Linked DNA regions of Homo sapiens: region 1 is linked to region 2. The links come from fine-mapping of genetic effects on gene expression. A gene starts in region 2. The other region holds a variant in brackets. All regions are shown on one strand. Distances are from middle to middle.

Evidence for each region.
Region 1: its variant is fine-mapped to the expression of NELFCD in whole blood (TOPMed, PIP 0.94).

Annotation. Positions count from the first base shown.
Region 1 is chr20:59,009,967-59,021,339 of GRCh38, reverse strand. TUBB1 (tubulin beta 1 class VI) reads right to left here and starts at 1,911. Exons shown (of 4, transcript NM_030773.4): 1 at 1,761-1,911. The coding sequence starts at 1,817. The variant G/A (reference allele first, on the strand shown) is at 5,871.
Region 2 is chr20:58,976,089-58,987,461 of GRCh38, reverse strand. It overlaps NELFCD (negative elongation factor complex member C/D), which reads right to left and starts at 6,206. Exons shown (of 15, transcript NM_198976.4): 1 at 6,093-6,206; 2 at 1,254-1,369; 3 at 599-708. The coding sequence starts at 6,152. RefSeq lists an enhancer at 5,448-5,948 and a silencer at 5,871-6,350.

The DNA.
Region 1 (11,373 bases), 34 kb before region 2:
ACCCCAAATTAAATGTGTCTTAAAGTTCTTATATCTCTAAATGATGAGTCAGCCAGGACTCTCAACGCTAGACCATACGATTCCAGAGTGAGAGCTAAAACCCTATCTAAACCTAACACTTTCTCTTGAGGGCCCCTTTCCGTATTATCTTCCAGCTTCAGAGCAGCAGGGCTCCTGCCTCCCACTTCTCTGTGTGTGAGTTATGAATGTCTTACCCCTGAGGCATGGAGGAATGGTGACTTCTTTTCAAGCAGTAATGTTCCTTGCCCCCGGTTTAAAACGCCTGCATTTAAAAGCCTTAGTTGTTTCCTGGCAGCATTACTCACAGTAGCCAAAAGGCAGAAACAACCCAAGTGTCATTGATGGATGATGAATGTAGGTGTTTCAAAACCTCACTTTTAATGCATCTCATATTAGTAAAAGTAATTTCACAGCAGCAAAGAGAACACGATAAATTTTGCACGGTGCAATTGGTCATCTTAAAATCAAGATTGGAGATTGTGGGTTCGGGCATCTGTGTTCTTGGGGTTGGCCAATTAAGTTACGTACTTGGGGGAAATTTTTAAGCAGGGGGGCAAGGGAAAGAAAAACTCATTTATATTCCAGACAGTGTATTTTAATTAATTATGTTACTGTACACAAAAAACTTTTATTTTCAATTAAATTTCTTAAATTTTCAATTGCATACTAATAAAACAGTAATTGATTTTTTTTAAGCGTTACAATAAACATGAGAGGGGAGGGGAAAGACACCATAGTGACAGGGTACAGAAAGTTTCTCAAAAAACTTCAAAAAGCTGTTTTGAGACAAATTACTGTTTTTAGATATGAAAAGTTCATTGTTAAGATAAAAGTGGGCCAGGTACAGTGGCTCACGCCTATAATCCCAGCACTTCGGGAGGCCCAGGCGGGCACATCACCTGAGGTCAGGAGTTCGAGACCAGCCTGACCAACATGGTGAAACCCCATCTCTACTAAAAATACAAAATTAGCCAGACGTGGTGGCGCATGCCTGTAATCCCAGCTACTGGGGAGGCTGAGGCAGGAGAATCACTTGAACCCAGGAGGTGGAGGTTGCAGTGAGCCAAGATTGCGCCATTGCACTCCAGCGTGGGCAACAAGAGTGACACTCCATCTCAAAAAAATAAAAGATGATAAAAGTGCCAGGCACGGTGGCCTACACCTGTCATCTCACCACTTTGGAAGCCTGAGGCAGAAGGATCACTTGAGCCCATGAGTTCAAGACCAGCCTGAGCAACAAAGTGAGATCCCTGTCTCTCAAAAAAAAATTTAAAAATTAGCCAGGCATAGTGGTGCATGCCTGTAATCCCAGCTACTCAGGAGGCTGAGGCAGGAGAATAGCTTGAGCCCAGGAGGTTGAGGCTATAGTGAGCCATGATTCTGCCACTCTACTCCAGCCTGGGCAACAGAGTGGGCAAAGAAAAAGATGATAAACGTATTATGTAATATAATGGTCGGCATGTATTGTACATATGTATCTATGGATAAAATTAACATTAATTAAATTAACACTCTAAGCACTTAATGTGTGTTGTAGCTCTTTAGTTAAAGATTGTTTCCTTCTTTTCCCATGTGAAATTTTTTTTTAAGAATTAAAGCCCAAAGGCATTGTCTGATATTTAGCAAGTACATTAAATCTGCTAGACTTATTGTCTTCCCTGCTAACTTAGGGTATTTTTTTGGTTGTCCGCCTCTATGGACTGTGGTAAAGCTAGGATTAGTAACCAGACATTACTTACCTTGGCTCCGATCTGGTTGCCACACTGGCCAATCTGAATATGGACAATTTCACGCATCCTTGCTCTGAGCCCAAGTCTGAGATCTTCACGGAATCCTCAGACTCTCAGAATCCAGAGCTTCGGTTCACTGGTGTGAGCCCAACACAACTGTGGTCACTGCAGTGGTGGGACTGGCCAACCAAGCTACCCTCACAATGTGACCAAGGGTGTGTCCACCCCAGAGGCCCAGCTCCCCGCCCTCAGCCAGTCCTGGCCCTTCTCTGCTTTCTGCCTGTCATGCTTTTGGAAGGGAGTGTTTTTCCTCCCTCAACACAGAATACTGCCCCATCATTTCCTAGAGAGTGAGTGCAAGATTAAAGGCCACCTCGGGGCACAGGGCCTGGAGGCTGGCACTGTTTGCAGGCTTCTAGGTGACCATGCTGGCCCTAGTGACCGTGGTATGATGACTGTGGCTCCTAGCTCACCCAGGTAACCAGACCACCTCCAAGGGCTTTCCCTGTCCATCTTCCCGGCCCCTTTTCCAGACTTTGGTCCCCAGAAGCCCCGTGCCCCGCCACAGCAGGAGGCTCCACAACTGGGCCTCGCAGGTCCCAGGTCCCGGGATGGCCTGCATCAGGCACTGTCTGCCCGCCCTCCCCCACATGCCCTCTCTCGCCCTGTATGCAAGTTACTCTGCAGTGTCCTGCAGGTCTCTTGGACCCCTGCCCTATCCATGCCAGGGCTGGGCTGTGCCCCAGCACCCTTCCCAGCCCCTGCTCTGTCGTCCCATCTCAGCTCATGGTGTCTGGGGTCTTAATGTTTGCCATAGGGTCCCTTTACCAGACCCTGAATTCTCCAAGAGCAAAACGGACTCCCAATTGTATTCCCTTAGAGCCGGGTGTGGTGGCTCACTCCTGTAATCCCAGCACTTTGAGAGGCCAAGGTGGGCAGATCACCAGAAGTCAGGAGTTCAAGACTAGCCTGGCCAACATGGCGAAACCCCATCTCTTACTAAAAATACAAATATTAGTCAGGTGTGGTGGCACACACATGTAGTCTCAGCTACTCGGGAGACTGCGGCAGGAGAATCGCTTGAACCTGAGAGGCGGAGGTTGTAGTGAGCCGAGATCATGCCACTGCACTCCAGCCTGGGCGACAAAACAAGACTCTGTCAGAAAAAAAAAAAAAAGCATTCCCTCATGCGGTGTACAGGAGTGGCAGCAGGCTGGGTACTCAGCAGCTTGAAAGCAGCTGTTCTGTCTCCTGGTCCTCAGTACCTCCCCTGCCACCAAGTTTCTATCATCGTCGAAAGCCAGCCCTAGGCTTTATTACCTCCAACCAGGCAAGGGCATCCAGGCCAAACACCAGCTCCATATCCTTGCCCAGGAGGGTGGCAGTTCCCCACCGCCTGGAGGACAGAAGGTGGAAGCTTCCAAGGAAGATGGGGAAGGGACTCCCTGAGAAGGCGTGAGAGCCCTGGCTCGGAAGGGGAGAGCCAGTGGACGCTGCCTTGTGCCTGTTGAGCTGTCGAGGTGCAGGTGGGCAGGTACAGGGCAAGGCCTCACTCCTGAAGCCCCGAGGATGTGGACAACCACCATCCGGTGAGCAACCACCTCTTGAGGCCTCTCTTTAACGTCTGCCGGGCACCCTGAGGTTGCCCCCATTCTTTGAACAGCTATGGACGGGGACCTGTCATAGGCTGGGCTCACCTTGGGCGCTGCAGACAAGGGAATGAAGGAGGTAGATGTGGCCAGATCCTGCACTCTTGGAACTCTGGCTTACTTAGGAAGAGAGCACTCCTAGCTCTGGAGCAGCTCAAGGACACCATCTCTCAGGACAGGGACTCAGGACAGGCAAGACTACTGAACTCAGAGCGAGAAGCCCTGGAGGTCCTTCCCTCCCCTGCCTCTCGCCAGACCCGTGACCTTGGTTGAAGCATTGGAGCCCAGCCTGGTCCATGAGGGGCCTGTGCTTCCTGTGCCCCAAGCCCAGGCTTGACTCCTAAACCTTGTGTTCCTTCTACAGGCCTGGTGGGGCCCAGGATGTGAGGTCAGGAACACAATCAGGAAAGTTCCTAACGATGGAGTGTCTGGGGGAAATCGCTTCTGCTTACTCCCAAAGGAGCTCAAACACACAGCCAAAGGGCCTGAGCTATAAACCAGAAGAGAAACCCAGAGGTGGGGAAGAAGAAAGCACTGTGTCCTAAGAGTGCCTGGACTGGGACTGCTTCTCACCTCTGTCTAGTGTGTAGATCCCAGGCTGCCCTTGAGTACTGACAGTGCACCCCATGATCCTGGGCTGGATCCAGGACCAGGGAAGAGGGCTGCTATAGAGGATGGTATGAGGATCATTGTCAAAATTCAAATAAGGATTGTGTACACTGGAAAATAGTATTGTATCAGTGTTCCATTTCTTGACTTTGATCATGGCAGGGTGGTTCTAAGTGGAAGTCCTTGTTTCCAGGAGATCCCATATTATGAAGCACTGTGCTTCAAGGTCGTTTTGATGCTGGCAGCTTACTGGGAAACAGTTCCACAACCACATAACGTGATAAACGGAGAGAGGGCAGTTCAGCAAAGGGGCAAAGTGGTAACAATTGCTGGTTCTTTTCAAAGTTAGCACAAGATTAATACCCTTGTAACATTTCTCTAAGTTTGGAACTTTTTTGTGCTCAAACCTGAATGTCACATGACTCACAGATGCTTCCGGTCCAGTCACCCCTCCTCCCTGCCCAAAGGTAAAGAGAAGAATGTGCAAATTCAAGAGGAGGATATTCACAGGTCCTCAGCAGTATTTTTCAGAAATTAAAACAGACCATTTTATTAATGATCTGTTTAAATTAAAACAGACCTATTCATAGGTCCCCAGCAATATTTTTCAGAAATTAAAACAGACCATTTTAAAATTAAGAATAGACCATTCTGTTTCCATAGACATTAGCCCATCTTGCCTCACTTCCAGCCTTTCTCCTGGCGTGCCTTGGCCTCTTTTCCCCTTGTCTCTGTCCCCACCAGCTCTCCCGAGCCTCCCTCCCCACCCAGGGGCCCCTGCCTACCAGACTTCTCCGAAGATCAAAGACAGCTCCATGATCTTCCCACAGGCAGGTCCCTCATCAGAGACACTTCCTCTCCTGGGGACCAGAGCACTTCAACCTGCAGTGCCCACACACAGTCCTGTTTGCTAATTACTTATACACATGCCTTATCTCCCGCCAGCCTGGGAGCTGCCTGTGTCGTTTCATCTTTGAGTCCCCAAAGTGCCTGATCCATGGCAGGGCCTCAGTAAATGTTTGTTAAGGGCACACTGACAGCTGGGCAGGTTTGAGCAGTGATGCTCAGAGCGGGCTGTGTTCTTAAAGCCAGTGATGTATTTATTCACGAGTGTGTCCTTCTCCAGGTGGGGTCACCTTTTTCCTCCATTCCATAAGAGGTGGTCTAGGCTGGAGATATAAACTGTTCCAAGAAACCTGGATGTTGGGGACAGACTATAGATGGAATAACCGCAGTGAGCTATTACGGGAAGGTGTGACCGGTGGGCAGCCGTGGCCTTCTGTGGCCCAGCTCCTGAAAGGAGCCCCTGTTGGCCACAAACCGCCTTGCTGCAGGGACCACGGGGCTGGGCCCAAGGGGCATTTCTGGTCTGCCTGGGTTCACTGTTTGCCATGTGAGCAGGATCCAGGCTGCTGGGGTCCTCCGCCCACCCTCCGCACTGCAGCACATTCCTCTTGGCCATCTTAGTTTGCTTAGGGAGGGGAAAAAGCCAGGTTTCCAGGTGGGCGCTTAAAAGGTTTTTCTGTTAATGGGGCAGTTGGCAAAAAGGAGGAAAAAGAGAGAAGCCCTGTTTGCTTTGATTCTTGTATCGCCGGCCATGTTAATTCAGGCCAGGCGAGTGCTGAGCTTTGGACGCTGGGCTGTGAGAGGGTGAGGGACGGAGTGGCAGCTCCGCCACCCAGGGGCCCATCTCCGCCCTAGACCTGAACTTTTTCACGTGAAAAATGAAATAAAAGTCCCCACGTCACAAGTCGGTGTGAGGACTGGGCCTGCCAGGGCTGACCCCTAACGTGTGGCTGCCGGTGGTATTTTTCAAGTGGGCTTCGCAGGGTGGGAGGGGGAGATGCATTCCACACCTACA[G/A]ACGGAGCACCTACTGTGTGGCAGACTTGACATGGCCGTGGACATCGGGGCCTGTCTCAATTTAAAATGTCTGGGCAGAACAGAGTGGCAGGAAAGGCAGCAGGTCTGGAAAGCCGTGCGTCCCGTCTCAGCTCTCTTGTCCTTGTTTCTGAAGGTACCTGCTCCCCAGAGGAAACAGCTCTCCTCTGATTGCCACCTTAGTGCCAGCAGTGAGGTGGGGAATACAGTCTGCCTTGCCCTCGGACTGGTAGAAGCGGGCCCTGTGCAGGACATAGGCGAACACTGCCCCTGGAGATGCCGGCACGACCCCAAGGTCTGTTTTGCCAGGCTGAAGGTGACGGCCCCCGTCCTGAGCTGCAGCAAGCGATTCACAGTGGCCACTGTGATGAGTGACAAAGTTGTTTTCTGCCCCCCCAACAAAGGGCTGTGACCAAGGCAGGTTAGCAGTGCCTGCATTTAGGTGAGGAGATCAGCAAGCATTGCCCCAGAGGGCAGGAGCTTCCTCCTAGCAAGTGTGGTGAGGACGCTATGGCCCACAACACTGAGATTCCCAACCAGGACCAGCCCAGCCCTGAGCCTGAAACCCTCTCCTCCAGTGGCCTGTCACAGCCATCCACAGAAGGCTCCGCAGCAGCAAGCCTTTTCCTGCATGACACTTGCGTCTATTACAGAAATAGAACCGGGAAGATAAGAAAAACCAGTGTCACCCAGAAACCCCGAATCGGCTGCTTCCAGACTTCCCCCAGGAGTTATCCCCCAGGGGTCAGATGGAGCTGCCCCCACCCTCCATTTGGCAAATGAAATAGAATTCAGAGAAAAACAGAGCACTCAGAGAATTCATTGATTTCATCCGCCCCGATCTTCCACTTCTGAGTGCGTTGAAGTTCCCTGAATAACTCAGAGAAGATTGTTGAATTATACTGTTTGCGTGTGATTTAGAACCAGGAAATTTTTCCAAATGTCTTAGCAAGAAAATGACATCTGAGGGGCCATTATGGGTGACTCAGCGGGTGTAGGCAGCCCGCCAGAGGAGCTGAGCTCCACTTTCTTGTACCCTGCTCGGTGTGTGTTCTCTTACTGGAAAAGAAAGTTCTAGGAGGATGAGTAACTAACTACAAGAGGAGAGAGACTAGGAGGACATTGCTGGTTTTCGCTGAGCCAGGAGTGTTAACCTTCTTCCCCCACAGCTGAGATGCTCATGGTTCCTGTACCAGGCAGACTCTGGCTGCTCCTCACACCTGTCCAGCCTCCAAGCCCAGAGGGTGGAAACATCTTGCTGTCTCTCCAGGTGCACTGGTGAGCAGCATGCAGGCTGTGGCAACTCTGATTTACAGGAGATAACACACACACGCGCGCACACACACACCTACCACCACCACCACTTCCCCTGAACTGCGCGAAGATCTAAGAGATGGACACATGAACCTTCTCACTTGCATCTTTCCTGTCTCCCGAAGTTGCAGCTAGTGATAAGCGATGTTCTGTGGCATGAACAGATAAGCATAAAATGGGTCAGCACCTGGAGCTGAAATTGAACAAAAATATGTACTTCTTCAAGCCCAGTGTTTGTCCAAGAAATCTCGGATATATTAGTTTTGAGGGACCTCAGAAAAGTAGAAAATATGGGCCCTGCCCTCCAGGGACTTAGAGGGTGAAAGCAGCACTAGCCTCCCGCTCTGCCGGTCTTTACCAGTTTCTCTGCCGCCGCCACCGTCTCCCACATGCTCCCTCGTTTAGCCTGCATGACACCACCACCTTCAAGAAGAAACTAAGGCTCAGAGAGGAATTGACATGTTCAAGTCTCAGGATAATGTGGCAGAACCAGAAACGGATTGCAGGTCCTCAGACACCTACATCCAGGGGTACAATTCAAGGGGCCAAGAGGCAGGCTCCAGGAGCCCGGGGTGCTCACGTCCCCTGCTCCTCACTCTGTAACTGCATCCTGCAAGTCCTGCTCCCAGGTGGATGTCCTGATGCATCTACTCTCCCCTTCTCTCAAACAGCATTCCTCATCCATCACCTGTGGCTCTCCCCTCCAGGGCCCTTCCTGTCCCACAGCTGACTCCACTCACAGCATCCTTCCCACAGTCACCAGAGGGATCTTACAAACAGAAATCAGCTCTCAGCCACTGCCCTCCTGGAAAGCCAGTGGCAACCGGGAGAAAACCCAAACCTCTTACAAAAGGAAGGCCGATGTGTGCCTTCAGATCTTCCAAAATGCACACGCCCCATGAGACAGGGATGGGAAACCCGCTGGGCAGGGAAATTAGGTGGGGGATGAAGGAGGCCAGCAGAGCCTCTGTCAGATGGCAGAAAGGGGAGGGAAGGGGAGAGGTGGGCTGGCCGTGTGAAGCTGGCCTGAGTGCCCGCATGGTCCCTGCAGCTTGGAGGCTGAGCCCACCTGTCCGCAGCCTCCCCAAGGGCTTTCCCCAGTGCATCACACACTTACCCAGTGCACTCACATTCTCAGGCCTCTGCAGACACTCTTCCTTCTGCTGAGTCTCCTTCCAGCACCTTCCATGACTGTCATTATTCAATCCCAACTCACTGGATACCTAAAAGAATGGTCCCAGACCAAACTTCTCCAGAGACCCTCCGTCTCTCCTGTTCCCCGTTTTAACTGTTTGCAAGCACTTCCTACCTCCTGAGCATTTTACTTTTCCACATGTTCCCTTATGCAGAAAACATAAGTCCTTGCAGACAGGGACTTTGTTCACTGCCGAATCCCCGGGGAAGAAAACAGTAGCCTGCACGTACTAGGTGCTCAACAAATATTTGCTGACAGCCTAACTTTAGAGGGCAAACAAATTCAATCGGGTAGTCATTGAGTGCCCCTTTGAAAGACTTCCTGGTGAGTTCATGGGTGGGCTGTGTCTGTTACATGCTGTGCTGCACAGGGTGTGTCCCAAAGGTGATACTGATGAGGCTGCCTTCATCAATGTCAGCCCAAGGAGCCACATCCACTCCCAAGCAAGTGTGCACCACCAGTCACTGTGCAACTGTCAGAGGCGTTTGAACCAGAGCGACTCCATCTTGAATACAGACTGGGTAAAATAAGGCTGAGACCTCCTGGGCTGCATTCCTTGGAGGTTAGACATTCTACATCACAGGATGAGATAGGAGGTCGGCACAAGGTACAGGTCACCAAGACCTTGCCAATAGGCCAGGCACGGTGGCTCAGGCCTGTAATACTAGCACTTTGGGAGGCTGAGGCGGGTGGATCGCCTGAGGTCAGGAGTTCAAGACCAGCCTGGCCAACATGGTGAAACCCCGTCTCTACTAAAAAAAGCCAAAAAAGTAGCCACGCATGGTGGCAGGCACCTGTAATCCCAGCTACTCGGGAGGCTAAGGCAGGAGAATCACTTGACCCCAAGAGGCAGAGGTTGCAGTGAGCCAAGATTGTGCCATTGCCCTCCAGCCTGGGTAACAAGAGCGAAACTCTGTCTCAAAAAACAAAAACAAACAAAAAACCTTGCTGATAAAAGGATGTGATAAAGAAGGCAGCCAAAACCCACCAAACCCAAGATGGCGATGAAAGTGACCTCTGGTTGTCCTCAGTGCTGATTATATGATAATTATAATGCATTAGCATGCTAAGAGACACTCCTACCAGCACCATGACAGTTTACAGATGCCACAGCAGCATCAGGAAGTTACCCTGTATGGTCTACAAAGCGGGGGAACCCTCAGTTCCTGGAATTGCCCACCCCTTTCCAAAAAACTCATGAATGATCCACTCCTTGTTCAGTGTATAATGAAGAAGTAACAGTAACTATAAATAGCTGAGCACCCCGTGCTGCCGCTCTGCCTGTGGAGGAGCTATTCTTTTATTCCTTTGCTTTCTTAATAAACTTGCTTTCACTTTATGGACTTTCCCCGAATTCCTTCTTGCGTGAGGTCCAAGAACCCTCTCTTGGGATCTGGGTTGGGATCCCCTTTCCCATAACACAACCAGGCCAGGATGTGATGCATGGTGGTGCTTGGGGACAGTGGCATGGTGGATTGCAAACCTGGCCCGCCCTATCTGAAGGCCTGCACTGCAGAGATATCTGGGTGTTAGCGAGTGCCTCTGACCCGTTGACCAAGTGGATCAAGAGGAACTCCTGTAGCTGGTGAGGGAACCGTCGTGCCCTGCAAAACCAGCCTAGCCTAGCGAGCATTGTCGGCATCCACCCAAACAAATGCCGGTATCCAGGATGTGGCTAAACTCAGGAATGTGGAATAATAGGAAATGTCTGCAGCTTGCCGGGGTGGAAGCCAGACAATATGGCACAAAGGAAGAAGAAAAAGGATTTCGAGGCCATTCCACAGTCGATGAAAACTCATCTGTGTTCTCCTCCTCCAGGTTGGGAAGGTGGGCCAGCCGTGGCCTGAGTGCTGATCTTTATCAGAATGAGGAGAAAAATCAGCCTTATTTTTAGAAATGAATAGGCTTTTGTGTCTGTGGCCTTGGATCATGTGTTTTCCAGGAGAATTCATGGGGTTAAAAAAAAAAAAAAAAAAAGGGACTGGATTGGAACCTGCCACCCAGGAGCCTCGTGCTGAGCACAGGTCACCTGACATCTCCAGAGGCTCAGTCTTTTCGCCAGTAGAATGGAGTAATAGCATCTGCCTCCCAACCCCCACCCCCACCTCACAGCATTGTGCAAAGGATCAAATGCGGCTGCACAGTCCTCTAGAATGTCATTGGCTCAGCCCTCTGCCCTCAAGCACCACTGGGAGCAGGAATGACTCCATTACCTCCAGGAAGGAAAACCCAGGATAGGTGCCAAGCTTTCCAGGCAAAGTGGTTTCAGGGGAGACGCCTTGCTCTAAATACCTACTCAATTCTGCCCCAAGCTGGAAGGCGGTGGCACACAGCTGCTTATAAAGAGCTGCTAGAAGCAATGCTTAGGCAAGTAGGGCCTCAGAGGTAGGAAGGTCCAAGTGCCCTGCCCCAAGCCTCTTCGGATCCCGGCCCAGATGAGAAGAAGAGTCAGTATCCACAAAACCACCTTGCAGGCACCTGCAGCCAAGTCAGGAGGAAACACCTTTCCGGTTTCCAAGAGTCCCCAAGCTGCTCTGCAGGTGAGTCTGCTTTGAAGAGAGAGACACAGCTCTGGGGCTAAACTCAACCCCCAGCAAGCAGTCCCCAGCAAGAAATGGCTGGGGTGGCCTGTCTATCAGGTTCCCAATGTGCTCCCTCCTCTTTTTCCAGTCCCAGACACCTCCTGGTTTTATCTGTGTGCCCTTCAGAGAACTCCTCCAGCTAAACATCCTTCACTAATAGCAGCACTGGAATTTGAGTTTGGGTGGGTTTGTGGCCATCCCCAACCCCGCCCCCACAAGGAACATGTTTAAGATCTTGCATCGAGTTAAGGGAAAAACAAAAACAACCAACAAAAACCCCAAAACCAAGAAAACCAAAAATCCTATTTAGGATCCTCTGCTGCACGATTTTAGTAACCCCCAAAATGACACAGCCCGCCAGCTTCTCGGAGCAGTCTGGCAGCCAGACATGCAT
Region 2 (11,373 bases):
GCCTCACTGAGGATAAAGACAAATGGCCCCAGCAACAGGTAGGGGGATGGAAAAACATCCCTGCCCAGTGAGGAGGGAGCAGATGGCAGCCAAAAGAGACACACTTGTATCTAATCACCGGGACAGCAGTGTGTCCACAAGCTTCCGGACAGCACGCACTTCAGTGATGTCATCTGCACCCGGCTCCGTGGATTTACAGTAAGACTCTACTTTGATCATATTAACTAAAAGCCATAATCACAGCCAGTCCTAAATTATCCGTCATTTACTGCTTGCTGTAATAGACGTCTTGAAAATGACACACTGAACACACACTGTATAATCCTATAATTCTACAACATGGTAGGGAAAACAGCTCAATGAGAATCACGTTTGCAGGCTACCAGTAAACCTCAATTACTGAATCAAAGATAAGAGGCAAGCAGATACAAATGAGTAAGATAAAGATAAAAATGAGTAAGAAGTTCAGCTCTTTCTTACACAAGTCTCAGAAACCAGGAAATCAAAGAAGGCATTGTATCAGTGTTATAAGGACCCAAAAGTCTATTTTTAAAAAAGTGGGGGTAACTAGCCAGGACAGGGGACACCCACAAAGCACCTGTCTGAATGAGCCACTCGGCCAGCAGGTTCACAGTCTGGGCCACAGCGGTGTAGTTTTCAGATAAGAGCTGGATAACATTCTCTGGAGACCCTCCTGCCTGAAAATACCTAGGGAAAGTAACAACAGCAATTACACCCGAATGAATGGAATGATGGACAACAGGAAGGTAAGGAAGGAGGAAGAGAATCAGGTTTCAAAATTTTTAAAGCAGCGGAGGGGGCTGGGTGCAGTGGTGCACACCTGTAATCCCAGCACTTTGGGAGGCAGAGGTGGGAGAATCACTTGAGCCTAGGAGTTCAAGAGCAGCCAGGGCAACGTAAGGAGCCCTGTCTCTCCCAAAAAACAAAAACAAAAATAGCCAGGCATGATGGCAGACGCCTGTGGTGGCCACCTTGCAAGGCTGAGGTGGGAGAACTGCTTGATTCCAGGAGGCTGAAGCTGCAGTGAGCGGTGATTGTGCCACTGCAACAGAGCAAGACTCTGTCTTAAAAAAATTTAAAAAAAAAAAAAAAGTGGCAGAGGGGACCCCCCCTTGAAGCCTTTAGTTCAGTTCGCGTTACTCTTGCTTTACATAGCACCTTCTGGGTGTATTACAAAACTTTCTCTAAATTACCCCCAGCCTCCTCCCAATACAGACACCTTTCTCACATACCTCTTCAGAGTGTTGAAGATGGAGGGTTCCATGATATAATCCCGGGTGGAAAATTTATGCAGGCATTCTTGCTGAACCTCCGCATCATCCTCTCCTTCTCCAGAATCATCCTCCTGCTGTTGGTAAATGCGAAGAGCCAGGATATTTTTTTCATTAATACAAATACCCTAATCTCACCTTAAATCGTATAATGCTGCCCATTTTGAAAGTATTCTACACACATTATTTCATTTGACTTTCATGACAATTTCATGAAATGGGCTGGACAGATAGTGAGTGGCTAGGAAAATGGGATCCAGGATCACACTGAGTGGGTGTGTACAACTCCTCCCTGGCAAACCGCGTTCCATGCTCACACAAGTTACCCAACCTCTCTGAGTGTCCATTTCCTCCTCTGTTAAGTGAAGATAATAATAACGCCTATTCCCATTTGGCTGTTGTGAGGATTCCATGAGCTAATTTTTGGAAGAACCCAGCATAATCCCTGACATTTCGTAACAGTGCAATAAATAGTAAACTATTATTATTATTGTTTTCACTATTCTTATTTCATACATGCCACTGAAGAGTAACAACCTGATTCTTGAAAGCGTGAGCCATCACTTACCATTAGAAAGTAAAGACCACTAACTCGCCTTGCATCCACACTTCTGGCTGGACTCCAGTCCCAATTCTATGTGGAAGCAACTTCAGGCCTGTCACTCCATCTAAGGGCAAAGCAGGCTTCTTCACCTGCTAATGACCATGTGAGGATGGACTGTGATCCCAAACCCTGTCCAACTTTAACACTGCCACCCTAACTAACAAGCAGATGCTTTTTGAACATTCAGTCTGCACTATGCTCATCAACCAAGGAACCTAAGAAAATGTAAGACAAGACAAGGCTTTTTCCATCAAAGAAGTTCACAAACTAATAGGAGAGACAGACCTCCATGCAACCTACTCTAACATAATGGGGCAAGAGCTGGGCCAGGGGTCAGCAAACTATGACCCAGAGCCGAATCCAGCCCTCTCCTATTTTTGCAAATAAACTTTTACGGAACACAGCACACCCATTCTTTTAAGGACTGTCTATGATTGCTTTCCCCCTGTAAGGGCAGAGGTAAGTAGTTAAGACAGAGACAGGCACAACCTAAAATATTTGCTATCTAGCCTTTTTCAGAAAAGTTTGCTCACTCCTGATCTGGACTAAGATCCTAAAAGCAGTGCTTTGGGAGCAGACAGAACCCGATGACTTCCCAGTAAAAGCTGTGGAGTCTTCTCTCAGACCAGATTTGCATGGGGAACGCTGAGCCCCTAAGGGCATGACAGAGGCCGGACTTCACCCCGAGCTTCATTCCCACGTTGTCTGTTCTCTTGGGCTTCCACCCTGGGCACTCACCTACCTGCCTCTTCCACCACCTCTTGGGTCATGCTATCTACCTGCTCACCAATCTAGAATTAGCCTGGATCTCTCTCTCCGTCTTTCCTCTCTTAAGCTCCAGACTCAGGTATCCAACATTCCATTCTCATTTCCAGTCAGATGTCTCACAAGTATCCAAACTCTTTAGGTCCAAAACTGACATCTCTTCCCTAGAAACAGATCTTCTTCCTACAACCCATATTTCCGTAAAGGTATCCTTCATATATCTACTTGTTACCCCCCAAACCTGAAAATCATCCTCAGCTTCTCTCCCTCACCCCACCCCCACATCCTGTCACAAAGACTCATCAGTTCCATCTCCCATCTGTCTATCCAAGGTGGTCCTTCTTTCCACATTTGCCTCTGCTCTTCCTTATTTTTTGTATGCTTGCAGTAGCAACATTCCCCTGAAGTCTCAGTCTTATTCCTTCCTTTCAATCATCTTTCACACCGTGGCCACAGTGATCTTTGTAAGCCACAAAACTGACGTCTCTCTCCTGCTTAAAGATTCCCATCTCCTTCAGGAAAAAACGCCCCAGCTCTAGCAAGAGCGTGCCCTTCCCACTTCCCCTGTCCGTTCTGACCTCTCACCACTCCCCATTTGCAATCTGTAGCAGGACTCATCTATTTGCATGTCTGCAGCTCTTAGTTTCCACCATCCAGACTGAACATCACGGTGGCCTCCTTACACATCTTCCTACCTCCCACTATGTAACATGGCATCAGGCGAACAGAATTTGGGTCACCAACTATCTTTTAAAATCCAGTTCTTGCCACCCTCCTAACACCTTTCCTAACTTTCTGTACCTCTTCCAAGCAGAGTCACAGAATAAACATGAAATGAACGTCTGGTCCACCCCCCTCATCCATGAGAGCCCACTGGTGTCAGTGGGCCAAATTAGGATCATGATTAAAATTCCCCAAACATGAGACTCCCCAATCTCCCATCAGTGGGGTCTAGGTCTGACTGCACAAACTTGGGCAAATAACTCACGTGCTTGGTCTATAAAGTGAAGGTACTGATTAGATGGCCCTTATATGCCCCAGTTCTAACACTTTATGACTCAAAGCCTCAAGGTGAGGCCGGGCACGGTAGCTCACACCTGTAATCTCAGCACTTTGAGAGGCGGAGGCGGGCAGATTACTTGAGGCCAGGAGTTCGAGACCAGCCTGGCCAACATGGTGAAACCACATCTCTACTAAAAATACAAAAATTAGCCGGGTGTGGTGGCACCGGCCTGTAATTCCAGCTACTTGGAGAATCACTTGAACCCAGGAGGTGGAGGTTGCAGTGAGCCAAGATGGCACCACTGCACTCCAGCCTGGGTGACAGAGTGAGACTCCGTCTCAAAGAAAAAAAAAAAAAAAAAAGGCCGGGTGCGGTGGCTCACGCCTGTAATCCTAGCATTTTGGGAGGCCGGGGCAGGCGGATCACCTGAGGTCAGGAGTTCAAGACTAGCCTGGCCAACGTGGTGAAACACTGTCTCTACTAAAATACAAAAATTAGCCGGACATGATGGCGGATGCCTGTAATCCCAGCTACTCAGGAGGCTGAGACGGGAGAATTGCTTGAACCCAGGAGATGGCAGTTGCAGCGAGCTGAGATCAAGCCACTGCACTCCAGCCTGAGCAGCTAAGCGAGACTCTGTCTCAAAAAAAAAAAAAAAGAAAAAAAGGCTCAAGGTGATATACTAGATGCCCCAAACACCAACCTACCACTAAGCTAATTCACACCTTCTCATCTGGACCACTTTGGTAGTCAGCAATTTGACGAAGTGGCAACGGAGGCAAAGGATGTGGGTTTGGGTCCCCTCTCCTTCCTTTATTAGTTTCATGACCTTGGGCAGGTCAGTAAGTCTTTTCGTCTCATTTTCTACACTTACCAGATAAGTAGGGTAACACCCAACTCAAAATCCTGTGTGTGGAAGGGGATAACGCATGACACACATGGCCCAAGCTCTCAGTTAGCTAAGTCTGACTCTATCCACTCCACCCTAAGCCTCCAACACTGTGAAATGATCCAACATGCAAATCTACTCGTGTCACTCCCTGCCCCAAACTCCTGAACAAGCCATACCATTCAGCAGCTCTCCAAGGATCTTCAGAACCTGCTCCCTACTGACCTCCTGCCACTGCTTCCACCAGGCAGCTAACATCACAGGGCTTCTTTCAGTTCCAGAAACACATCGCCCGCCTTGGCATTTTAGACCATGGCTCCGAAGCCGCCATCACACCACCACCCATGTTTATCAACGTAAGCCCCACTTCATCCTTTATTCCCTTATAATACCACTTCAAAATGCACCAGACATCCCCAATCTTGATTGTTGTTAAAAATGCAAGTTCCTGGGCCACGAGCAGTGGCTCACGCCTGTAATCCCAGTACTTTGGGAGGCAGAGGTGGGTGGATCACCTGAGGTCAAGAGTTTGAGACCAGCCTGGCCAACAAGGTGAAACCCCCTCTCTACTCAAAATTTTAAAAATTAGCTGGGCATGGTGGTGGGTGCCTGTAATCCCAGCTATTCGGGAGGCTGAGGCAGGAGAATCGCTTGAATCCGAGAGGCAGACGTTGCAGTGAGCCGCGATGGCGCCATTACACTCCAGCCTGGGCAACAAGAGCGAAACTCCACCACAAAAAAAAAAAAAAAAAAAAAAAAAAAAAAAAATGCAAGTTCCCAGGCTCCCGTCCAGACCAACTGTTGGGCCGTCTCCAGGGGAGGGACGTGAGAAGCTACATTTCAATCATGCGCCTCAGTTGGGTCTTTAGAGTAAGGTGGGGACACACTGTCCAGACTAGAGCTACCTGCCCTGGCTCTGCAGTCCCTGTCCTCAGGGTGGAACAGTGATCCCTCCTGGGCTTCCACCCCAAACCCTGGAAGGTCAAGGCCCGAAAATCCTTTCCATCAGTTTGCCCAAAAACAGATGAAATCAGCCCAAGGTGCTGAAGAGTACAGTTTATAAAACAGTAAAGCACATGTAGGAATGCCCTAAGTTCTACTTTTTCCTCATGATGCTGCTGTGAAGTTTTTCCACTTTATTTTTGTTTAAAAGTCTGTGAGCTCCGGACCCAACCCTCCACCTTAGCGTTGGTGTCCCGCCCGCCGCGGGGGTCGCAGGGCCGGCGCCGGGCCTGGCCGGAGCGAGGGGGTACTGGGGGCCTCGGGCCGCCCCGCGCCAGAGCCTCCGGCGCCTCACCCCCACCCCAAGGTCCTGCAGGCGAGGAGGCGGGGACCCCGGCGGCCGCGCCGCGGGACCCCGGGCGGGCGGGGGCGGGGCGGGCTGTGCTTGAACCACACGGTGACCGCGCGGGCCGTGCGCGCGCACACCCCCCGCACGCCCGCAGCCTCGCGCCGCGCGGCCTCTCCGGGAGTGGGGCCGGCCCGCCGGCGGCGGAGACGAACGATTCTCTCTAGGGTGCGCCCAGTGCCCCGCCTCACCTGGCCGCCGTCAGCCTCGTCGCCCCACTCGGCCGCGCTCCCGTAGTAGTCCTCGTCCATGATGGCGCCCGGCACGGCCCCCGCCATGCCCTCCCGCGAGCGAGCGCGGCGCATGCGCGAGGCGGGGACGGGCGGGCGGGCGCACGCGCGGCCGCGCGCCTCGGCCCGGGCGGGAGGCGGGGCCTGGAAGAAGGGGCGGGGCCTGGAGGAAGGGCAGGGCCGCGGGCTCGGCACTGGGAACAAAGGGGACCGGCGGAAGGAACGCCCCCAGTCGATCCCGGAGCGATGCCCGGGTGGACCAGGGGCTTAGCTCCGGAGAGAGGTTTCCCACTGGATTCGTGCACAGCCCCTCCCCTGCGGCGCCGGCTCTGCGAGCCCCAGTTTCCTCATCTGGCAGCTGGAAACAAATCCTTCCGGAAGTGTCCAGGACCCACGAAAGTGTTTTAATTTCTTTTAGTTTTGGTAAAAAGTACTAAACGCGACCGGGCGTGGGGGCTCACGCCTGTAATCCCAGCACTTTGGGAGACCGAGGCTGACGGATCACTTGAGGTCAGGAGTTCGAGGCCAGTCTGGCCAACATGGTGAAACCCCGTCTCTGCTCAAAATACAAAAATTAGCCGGGCGTGGTGGCATGCGCCTGTAATCCCAGGTACTCGGGTGACTGAGGCAGGAGAATCGCTTGAACCCGGGAGGCGGAGGTTGCAGTGAGCCAAGATCGCACCATTGCACTCCAGCCTGAGCGACAGAGCGAGACCCTATCTCAAATAAATAAATACATACATAAAAAGGGCAGGGCACGGTGGCTCACGCCTGTAATCCCAACACTTTGGGAGGCCGAGGCGGGCGGATCACCTGAGGTCAGGAGTTCGAGACCAGCCTGGTCAACATGGTAAAACCCCTTCTCTACTAATAACACAAAAATTAGCTGGGCATGGTGGCGGGCGCCTGTAGTCTCAGCTACTCAAGAGGCTGAGTCACGAGAACCGCTTGAACCCAGGAGGTGGAGGTTGCAGTGAGCCAAGATCACACCACCGCACTCCAGCCTAGGCAACAGAGTGAAACTGTGTCAAAAAAAAAAAAAAAAAGAAAAAGAAAAAGAAAGAAAGAAGAAAGAAAGAAAAGAAAAGAAAAAAGAAAAGAGAAGAAAAAGTACTGAATGCAGTGGAAAGTAGCATTTTTAATTTTTTATAAAGTGGAAGATAGGCCCACAAAGCAAAAGTGCCCAGAGCTGACAAAAATCTCTGGAGAAAGGACCTCTCTGGTCGTTGCCAAAGGGAGCAGCTGACGCTGTTGTAAAGCCCGCAGCTCGATTCCCAGCGTGAAGTAGGGGGTGAGAATATGACAGCCTCCTGATGATCACGGAAAGGTTTTTGTTTGGTTGTTGTGTTTTTGTTTTGTTTTAATTTTAGATTCGGTGCGTGTGCAGGTTTGTTACATTGGTATATTGCGTGATGCTTCTAATCCTTTCGGCAACTTTTTCAGCCTTTACCCCCCTCCACACCTTCTGCCTTTTGGAATACCCCATGTCTGTTGTTCCCATCTTTGTGTCCAAATCACAGAAAATTTTAAACAGGGAGATTAACGCCATAAAATCTGGATGCTTTGAAAGGTAACGCCCGTGGCTGAGCGCCGCGGCTCACACCTGTAATCCCAGCACTTTGGGAGGCCAAGGTGGGAGGATTGCTTGAGGCAAGAGTTTGAGACCAACCTGGGCAACATAGCGAGACACCGCCCCCCCCCTTCCCCCGCCCCCAGCCAGGTATGGTGATGCACGCCTGTAGTCCTAGCTGCTCGGGAGGCTGAGGCAGGAGGATTGCTTCAGCCCAGGAGTTTGAGGTTACAGTTTGCTATGGTCGTGCCATTGCATTTCAGCCTGTGTGACAAAGTGAGACCCTGTCTATAAAGAAAAAAAAGAAAGGTAATGCCCATGTCAGTAAGGAAAGAGTATTAGAGAAAAGAGCTCCAGAAGATTGATAATAGTGACTACTTTTGGAGAACTTATCAGGGAATATGTCTTCATTTATTCAACAAATGTTTATTGAGTGTTCCCTAAGTGCCCAGCACTGCGCTGCTCCCTGGAGCTCGGTGAACAAGTTGGACCTGATCCTTGTCCGGGTAGAGCCTACATTCTACTGAAGGAGCTGAATGGGGGGAGGGGGTGGGGGGAACAAATAAGATAAAGACAGAAGGTGATCAGTGCTAGTATTCTGTGATAATAGAATCTTCTTGGGGAGATCAGAGATGGCTGCTGAGCAGCTTACATTTGAACTGAGTCATGTCATGAAAGGGGCAAGCTAGCTAAGACCCAGGCAAGAGCATTTCCAGAGAGCAGAACTGCCAGGGCAAAGGCCAGGCATGCGTACTTGGAACAGAAAGGCCACTGAGAGCGGCACCTGGCAGGCCAAGGAGAAATCTAGATGAGGTGGGCAAGGCAGGGAGGGCCAGATCTTGGGAGGGAGTTAGGTCTGTATTAACTGAGGGCCATCTCTAAGGATTGAATGTAATGAGGTATGCCAAGCACTGAGCAGAGAGCTTGCACATGGTAGGTGCTCAGCAAGTATGCATCATTATGAGGAAGATGAAACGTTTGGATTTTTTTTTTCTTGCTCTGAGCGGGTGAAAGGACATATCTGAATTTTCAAAGGCATTTCTCCTAGCTGAGGGGGCCTTACAGAAGGAAGTGAGAAGGTGAGAATGTAAATTAAGAAGCTTCCGTGAGCATTAATGGAGGGGGTTGCTGAGAAGGAGCTGTGGCTAACTGCTGTGAAGTTGGGGTCAAGTCCAGAGGATACAACAGCCTTGGGGGTGGGAGATGGGGGCCAGGAACAGGGGCAGGGAAGATGCTGCTGTGACCCCCAGCTTGTGTGCCTGGGGATGGCCCATGGCTGAGACAGGGAACCCAGGAGGAGGGCAGGTTTCTCCATGGGATGATAATGAGTTCATTGGGTTGTGCTGAGTTAGAGGTGCCAACAGAACACCCATGCGGAGATGTCCTGCAGGTGGTTGGAGGTGGAAGTCTGCAGCTCCGATTCAAAGGATCCAGCTCCAGCTTCTATTCACAAGATTAAAGTGTATTAAGTTAATGAGTGCCCCTGCTGTTGGCTTGTTTCAGGGTTCATTTTCACTTGCTTTCTCAAAATGTTGGAAAGAATAGATGGCTGTTAAACTCCTCCTACCTCTCCTCTTAGATTTTTTAAAAAATAGTGCCAGAATTGAAAGCGGACCAATTAATGTATGTATAACTAATTGTGCCTACGGAATTGGGGATTATTCAGCTCACTTCTCCTTCAACCAACAGGTTGGTTAATCCATTTATTGTTAAATGGATTAACAACCCGTAATGAAACCATTACATTCAGCCTATAAGTCACAATGATTTAAAAGTAATTGGGTCAGCCGGGCGCAGTGGCTCAGGCCCGTAATCCCAGCACTTTGGGAGGCCGAGGCGGGTGGATCACGAGGTCAGGAGATCGAGACCATCCTGGCTAACACGGTGAAACCCCGTCTCTACTAAAAATACAAAAAAATTAGCCGGGCATGGTGGCAGGCGCCTGTAGTCCCAGCTACTCAGGAGGCTGAGGCAGGAGAATAGTGTGAACCTGGGAGGTGGAGCTTGCAGTGAGCCGAGATCATGCCACTGCACTCCAGCCTGGGTGACAGAGCGAAACTCTGTCTCAAAAAAAAAAAAAAAAAAAAAAGTAGTTGGGTCTATAGGTCTTGCCTCCTGAGATATTGTGGATCTGTTGTTTTTTCCAAAGCCTTGTCTAGATTGTCCAGATTAGCTTGCATTGCTTAAATACTCCTAAAGTCATTTAAGTTCTAAAGTCATTTTCCTGTTTAAGAAGAATTCTGGGCCGGGTGCGGTGGCTCATACCTATAATCCCAGCACTTTGGGAGGCCAACACAGGCAGATCACTTGAGGTCAGGAGTTTGAGACCAGCCTGGCCAACATGGTGAAACCCCGTCTCTTCTAAAAATACAAAAATTAGCCAGGTGTGGTGGCGGGTGCCTGTAGTCCCAGCTACTTGGGAGGCTGAGGCAGGAGAATCGCTTGAACTTGGGAGGCAGAGGTTGCAGTGAAGTGAGATCACACCACTGTACTCCAGCCTGGGTGACAGAGCAAGACTCTGTCCCCTGACCCCCACCAAAAAAAAAGAAGAAAAAGAAGAATTCTGGTGGAGAATTTTTATGAAAATTAGAAGTTGGTTTCACTTAATCCATTGAGGAAATACTTACTGAGTGCCTACTAGGTGTCAGGTGCTGGGATATAGCTGAATCAGAGACACAATTCATCTGGTGCTAATGGCAAAAAAGGAGAAAAGAGAAGCTATCTCTAACAATTTTTTTTAAAAAATGCAGCGACCTCAGAAAGAGGTCAAGAAGTCCTTTCCAGGGAAATTATGTTTAAGCTGAGACTTGTGACTTCAATCTGGAGGACAAAGAGAATAGGGTACAGTGGAGAAAATAAGAAATGACAGTAAAGAAAATGGCTGGAGTGCAGACATCAAAAGGAGAGAGAGAGACAGTAAGGGGAGAGAGAGAGAGGCCAGACCAGAGAGAGAGAGAGAAAGGGAGAAAGAAAGGGCAGGCCAGAGAGAGAGAGAGTAAGGGAGAGAGAGAGGACATGGGGCCACCACGTCCTTAGTTACAAATACCAGACACCTGGAAATCATTTGTAACTTCTGTTCCCCCATGATTCCTATTCAACCCAAGGCAAATTCTGCATCAGATCCACGTGCAAAATCTACTTCAAATCTATTCACTTGTCTCCATCGTTATGCCACTGTCTTAGTTCAGGCTCTTACCAGCTCTCACCTGGGTGGCTGCAGTAGCCACAGACTGATCTGACTCATCTTTCTGTTCTCTATTACAGTCCATTCTCCAAACAGCAGTGTGATGGTTTACAAAATGTATCCACAACTTTTTTTATACTCCTCTCTTCAAGAGGCGGAGCTTAATGTCTTTCCTCTTGTGTGTGAGCTGAACTTAGTGATTCACTTCTAATGAATAAGGCAGTGACAGTGGGGGACTTCATGGACTAGGTCATAAGAAGACACTGGGACTTCCATTTTGGCCACACTCTCTCAGATCACTCACTTTGGAGGAGGCCAGATGCCACACTGTGAACAGGCCCATGGAGAAACCCATAGTGAGGAACTGAGGGCTCCTACAGCAGCTAAGTAAGTGGGCTTGGAGGTGGATTCTCCACTTTCAGTCAAGTCCCAGCTGACATACCACTTGCAACTTCATGAGAGACCCTGAGTCAGAACCATCCAGCTAA